Linked DNA regions of Homo sapiens. The protein of the gene in region 2 interacts with the protein of the main gene of each other region in a pairwise test. Each region holds a gene or a part of one and is shown on either strand. Other genes may lie near its edges.

Region 1 (2,811 bases), on a different chromosome or scaffold from region 2:
CCCCACATTACAAAGCTTTTAGAGCCAGGCCAGGAAGGTTCAAGGTTGTAGTACAACATGATCATGCTTGTGAAAAGCCACTGCAGTCCAGCCTGGACAACACAGCAAGACCTGCTTCTCTTAAAAACAAACAAACAAAAAACACCTCTTGGCTGGGCATGGTGGCTCATGCTTGTAATCCCAGCACTTTGGGAGGCTGAAGCAGGTGGATCACTTGAGGTCAGGAGTTCAAGAACAGCCTGGCCAACATGGTGAAACCCTATCTCTACTAAAAATACAAAAATTAGCTGGGCTTTACATAAAACCGGGCAGGGCATGGTGGCTCACATCTGTAATCACAGCTCAGTCTCCTGGGGACTACATGCCTGTAGTCGCAGCTACTCAGGAGGCTGAGGCAGGAGAATTGCTTAAACCCAGAGGTGGAGGTTGCAGTGAGCTGAGATCACACCACTGCACTCCAGCTTGGGTGACAGAGCAAGACTCCGTCTTAAAAAACAAAACAAAAAAACAAACAAAAAAACACCTCTTAAAAAGTTAATTTTACTAAGCCTTTTAAAGGAATAAGACAGCCTTCAGAAGTCAGGCACTGTGGCTCATCTGTAATCCCAGCGTTCTGGGAGGCTGAGGCAGGCAGATCACCTGAGGTCAGGAGTTTGAGACAGCCTGGCCAACATGGTGAAACCCTGTCTCTACTAAAAATACAAAAATTAGCCAGGTGTGGTGGTGCATGCCTGTAGTCCCAGCTCGGAGGCTGAGGCAGGAGAATCGCTTGAACCCCGGAAGTGGAGGTTGCAGTGAGCCGAGAATGTGCCAGGTGACACAGCTAGACTAGACTCCGTCTCAAAAAAAAAAAAATAGCTTTCAGAAAACAGCGTTACTCAAAATGCCTTGTGTTTAAATTTTAAAACTTTATTGGCTGACGGAAAACTGCCATACTTTCTTCCCACTACCATCCTGCTATTCCTGAATTCAATTTGCAAAAGAAGCATAGACCAAGAAGGGTTCCTTAGGTGCTCAACAGAATTTAAAGTGCGACAGATATGTTTACAATTAGAAAATAAAACTTCTCTCTCAGTTTAAAGAAATTTTTTTCTTTGTACATATTTTAAAGTACAGTTGTGTTTTCTTTTTAGGAACTGTGGAAAATGCCTATTTATAATGTCTTTGGAAGGATACCCCATTTTGTAATTGTGGTCTTCCAGATTCTTCTGGGTTAACATGTTGAGATGTATTCCACGGTACTCGCATTTCTGATAAATCCATATTGTCTCGAAGAGACTTCCTTTCAGCTTTCTGACATCTTATCAAGAATTAGTAGAGGGGCAAGAATTCTTGCCCTGTTAGTTTCCACAATGCAGCCATTTAACACCATCTCATCCAAAATGATGTGTACTTTATCCAAATTAAACATTATCTACGGTTATATTAAGGAAATTAGTTTAAAGTTAAAAATTATTAACATTCAGTAAAAATTTATGGCTTAACCTAGAGTGTTCCCAGTGTAAATTAGCCTAAGCATGAGGTTTTTTGTACAAAATTTCTGAAATTAAATTTAAAACTGGCATCCATATTAGAAATTGTTACCTTCATATATACATACCTAGTTTCACCTTGGTTAAGCTAACAGGATAAGTAGGGATAAAAATGAAACAGCTACATTTTTTAACCAAAGGGATAGGGGGTCTACTAAGTGCTAGAGAACACAGCAGTGTCATGTGGCAAGAGAATGACCTTAACTCAAAAATAGTGTTGTCTTCCCAGACAATAATAGTAACAGTAGCAACGATTTGTTGAATACTCCCGTTCCAGACAGTGTGTTGAGTTTCAGCCCTCTACAAATCTCTGATGTATGTTGTTACATATTATCCTCAGTTTACCCAGGATCAAACAGGTTCAAAGCATAGTCCAAGGTCACATGGCTAGTAAATGCCAGGTTTGAATTTAAACCCAAAGCTTGGGCTTGACTGCTCTGCTTATAGGCTCCTCAGGAGGGGCTAGACACCTCCCTCCTCAGCCCCCAAACCTCCACCCCAAAATAAATGCCTTGTACCTTCAGTTTTCTTCTCTGTCAGACAGACTGATGTAAAAATAACTATGAGGAGAAAATGAATGAAGAAGGCAGGGCATAATAAAATTTCTGGATTTCAAGACAGTATCTCTTACAAATGGGTAGTTCTAAGAAGTCATTTGAGAATGATGGAGCCACTTTGGCTTACAGGTGTTCTTACTGGGAAGTTAGTATGGGGCATGGGGAAAGAAGAAAATATTGTTAGACTATGATGTCTAGCAAACCACAAAGAACTAAATACTTCCCTCAAGAATCCCTTCAACTGAATACCTAACTTTTCTTTGGTGAAAGAAGGGGAACTGGAATGAGATGATGACAATGAATGTTTCTCAGTTTTACACCTTAATATCTGAAGTTCTCTGTCTACTTAAAGAGCATGATCCTGGTCTGTTACAAAAACAAAAACAGTTGACAGATTGTTTCAAATAAACTTCATTCAACAAATAGGTAATTAAATGCACTAGCGGAGTTCAAAATTAAATCTTTGTAAAGTGAATTGTTCCCTTTGATTTTTTTCAACCAGACCAGATATTCAAAGTCTACACTGTATTTGCTTAGTGAAGTGCAACTACACAGAATAGGACAAATGGTGAATGACTTTAAAGTTTTTATTAGGCTCTGTGTGAATATCTCATTAAGCTCTGTGCAAATAGTCCTCCAGCAGAATAAACTGTTTTCCAAGGACCCATGGGAACTGTCCTTAAGTGACCCAGAAAAAAAAAAAAAAGCGTTATTCTGATATA
Region 2 (3,660 bases):
AAAACAAAATACTTCTTGTTGGTTTTCCTAGTATGCCATATTTTTAGAAGAAAAACAAGTAAAGTAGTACAGTCGCCTGCCAGGCTGCCTCCTCCCACTTCTTCCCCAGCTCCTCAGGGACTGTCACTCTCAGGCCTCCTCTGCAGCCTTGGCTTCTTGCTTACTTCAAGCATCTCACTGAATTGCCATCGGATGGGCTGAAATGAGCATTTTATCTTCACTTTCAGCCTTCTGGAAACCATAGTCCAGTGCTGGTTATCAAGCCATTTGAGTACCTAAGAGCAGTAATTTTTAAGCTCCTTGGATTTTAATCTCTTTGGTATGTCATGGAGCCCACAGAGACAGAGTAATCTGAGGGTCAACAGTCCTCTCTTGTAAAATCTAGGAAGTCTAGGGTTAGCCAAAATAAGCCAATGCCACACTGCTTAAACCACCACTGACTAGAGCACACTCAAGAAACTGTTGCTGGGTTTTTTAAATTTTGTTTTCTAATTCTCCGAGACCACTTTATTCACACTTGTCTTTGGCAAGGCTAGCTTTTTACCTGGTAGGACAGTTACTTGTGCAATTTTTATTGCATTCGTTCATTTAACAAACTATTATAGAATGCCTTCCATGTGCCAGGCATTGTGCTATGGAGATAACAGTAAACCAAGGCAGTCCCTAACTCCAAGGAGGTCACTGTCTTATCTCTCCTATCAGACTGTGAATTCCTTGAGGTCAGCCTGTGCTTTTAAAACAAGTGTCTGTCATAGTGGCTAGCAGATAGAAAGTATTTAATATATATTTATTTGTCAAATGAAAGAATAAATGAATGAAAAAATAAATACATTAAACCTTAGTTTCCTCCCGTCCTCCAAGTAACTATGGAGAAGCCTTCTGAGAAGTTCCCACGGTTTTTTTAGAAGTAAGAAATAGATGAGCCTTGGTTTCACAAAAAGGGGTATAGCTAAAGTGAAAGCCAGGATCAACAAAAGATGGTTTAAGTTTTACTACCGAGAATTCTGCAAATTTAAGGAGTCACCTAGTTTACATACTCTGTAACCAATTCAAGTCAAACAACCTTCTCCCTTTTAGAATGAGACAAAAAGAAAGAAAAGGGAGTGAAAATCTTCTATTTTAAGAAGCAAGACTCTTCACCCCATCCTGCAGACAATCCAGCACATCTCCTCTGCAACAGTGCTCATGTACATGGGCCACATCCAGGACTAGTTTCTGGATTTCAGTAAAATTAACTTTGGTAAACTTCTGACTCAGTTTAGTAACAGTTCTAGGGAAAAAAAAGAAATTAGAAATTAATTTCTTGGTTATCTGTCAAAATAAAATAGAATTTATAGAGTATTACTACAGTAGAAGTTTCAAAGAGAAATGACTGAAATTCCCTTGTTGTTTAAAAAGAAAAGGAAACATGTTTTAAGGCTTGATTCCAGCCATATCTTTCAAGGTGGTAGCTCTGTAAACTGTGAGCTGGCCCCACAAATGGTTTAGAAATAATTTATCTTTTCCTAAAACATGTCTTAAGAATTAAGGTAAATTATTTTTGCCATTCAACCCTTATGCTGAGCATTTGTATTGAGTGGACATAAAACTTTAAAAGGATAAACAATTAAGAAATGGAAAATTCCATGAAAATGAGAACCATTTTTTACTGGGGTAAAAAATACTTCTGAGAATCCAGGAAAGGAGGCGTATGTGCAAATCAATGAAATGGGACAAGAAAGTGGAGCAGATTAAACATTTCAGGCATACCAGTGTGCCAAGAGAGTAATGTGGCCAAAAAAGAAGTAAGAAATAAAAATTCTGGTTTCCTCTGCATATTTCATTAAATTTTAAGAGTTGTCTTTGTAAAACCATTGCTCCTAGAGAAAATAGTGTTACTCCTGCTTCTGATAAAGATGGATCTTCTCTATAAATTTAGACCACTTAGCTTTCACTTATGGATAGCAAATGATAAGGGTATTATAATACTATCTCAATTTCTATTTTATTACTAAGATAAATTTTTTTAAAGTAGGTCATAAATTAATCTTTCAATTTCTAATTGAGTTGGAGGGTAGTTAAGGCATAAATCTGACTTCTTACAAGAAGAAATTTCAGTCTTTAGAACTAATTCTATTACTAAAAACTTCATTCTAGATTTCCATTGTCTACAATATGCTTTAACGTGTTATTTAACCAAACAGCAATCAAATAAACTCTGAATATATATACTTACTACTATTCGATTAGCAGCTCAGATATTTTCATATACTAGAAATGTTTTATCATAAAAGAGTTGATGAGTACTTTAAAGAAGTTATATAATTTAAAATGTTCTTTTCTCCTGACACTAGATTCTAATATTATTGCCTCAAAGGAATATTTTTATGGGAAGCAATAAATGCTATAAAGAGCCTTATAGAAGATTAAGAAACACAATTAATATAAAGAATTTCTTGTTAAGGCAAAAGTTTTAAATGACACTCAGTGAAGGCTGACTTATTTTGTAGAAGAGCTAGAAAAATATGGTCTAGTGATGAGGTATAATTTGATGGCAGGCCAGAACTTAAGTGTCTTAAAGAACAGGTAAATAACATAAACTTTAAAAGTCTTTTCTATGTATTATCTCAGCTAGGCTTTAGTAAGTGTTAAACTGACTTATCCGTTAGCTTCCTTCTGATCCTAAGAGTTCATGGTTCTAATCCCATTAGCCCTCATCAAAGGGGTCACAAAGGGGTCTTCATTCTCTAAAACAGCAACAATTAAAAAAACGAACCCAAATTGCAAAATGGTAGTTCTGTAGCTCTCACCCTCTTCCCTAGATAGAACTTGAACTTACATGGCTTGGAAAGTTCGGGTCCCAAAATTTTTCATTACTGCACATGCATGTTGATTTAACAAGCTGCTTTCTCTTAATTCTTTTGTAACTGTTGCTGCCTAGATGTAGAGGAAACAAAATGTCATGAAAGCATATACTAACATTTTCTTTACAAGCTCTAATATTTAGAAAAACAACAAGTATAGGTAAAATGAAATTCCATAAAATATGTTTTTTACTAAAAATTATAAATGTCATACATTATCGCAGAATATTATTGACTCATTTATTCTTTTGGGTTAGTTTATATGCATCTGTGCCAGACAAATTTACTCAAAGTACCTTGAAACAAAAACATAACTTTTATACTGGGGATCATAAATGAACAACTGTACCTTTAAACAGCTTAAAGACAAATTGAAGCCTGCTAATTTCTTAAGTGTCTTCTCAGTTACAAAAAATACGATTGTATCACGGCTTGACACTGAGAGTAGTCAGTTCTCAGGAAATTTTTGTTATAGGACTGCTGGTAGCAAGTAGTTAATGGTGGATATTATTCTACCTCTCTAAACCTAAAAAAAATTTTCTTCTCTAAACCTCTTTCCTAGTTTGTTAAAGGACAAAAATACTTACACCTCAAATTTGTTCTAAGGTTTAAAAAAACAGTAAGTATAAAGCATTTATCATAGTTCTTCATTTTTTCTCTCTCCTCTGCTCCTCCTTTTCTCCGTTTTCTTTCACTTACTCCTTCCCATTTATAGCACCCTCTCTTTCTCTCTTTCTGTCTGTCTGTCTTTCCTTCTTTATCCCATCAAACTCACTTCCTTAATAATAAAATTATTGTTGACTTAATGAATAGATAA

Evidence for each region. The genes of interacting proteins can lie anywhere in the genome.
Region 1: the proteins of AFP (region 2) and AP4S1 interact in a two-hybrid assay, tested with the Homo sapiens proteins (one large-scale study listed by BioGRID and IntAct).

Annotation. Positions count from the first base shown.
Region 1 is NC_000014.9:31,091,510-31,094,320, reverse strand, and holds part of AP4S1 (AP-4 complex subunit sigma-1), read right to left. Parts: intron 1,415-2,811; coding exon 1,286-1,414; 3' UTR 1-1,285. UniProt on the Homo sapiens protein: Component of the adaptor protein complex 4 (AP-4). Adaptor protein complexes are vesicle coat components involved both in vesicle formation and cargo selection. They control the vesicular transport of proteins in different trafficking pathways.
Region 2 is NC_000004.12:73,442,603-73,446,262, reverse strand, and holds part of AFP (alpha-fetoprotein isoform 1 precursor), read right to left. Parts: intron 2,917-3,660; coding exon 2,819-2,916; intron 1,271-2,818; coding exon 1,141-1,270; intron 1-1,140. UniProt on the Homo sapiens protein: Binds copper, nickel, and fatty acids as well as, and bilirubin less well than, serum albumin. Only a small percentage (less than 2%) of the human AFP shows estrogen-binding properties.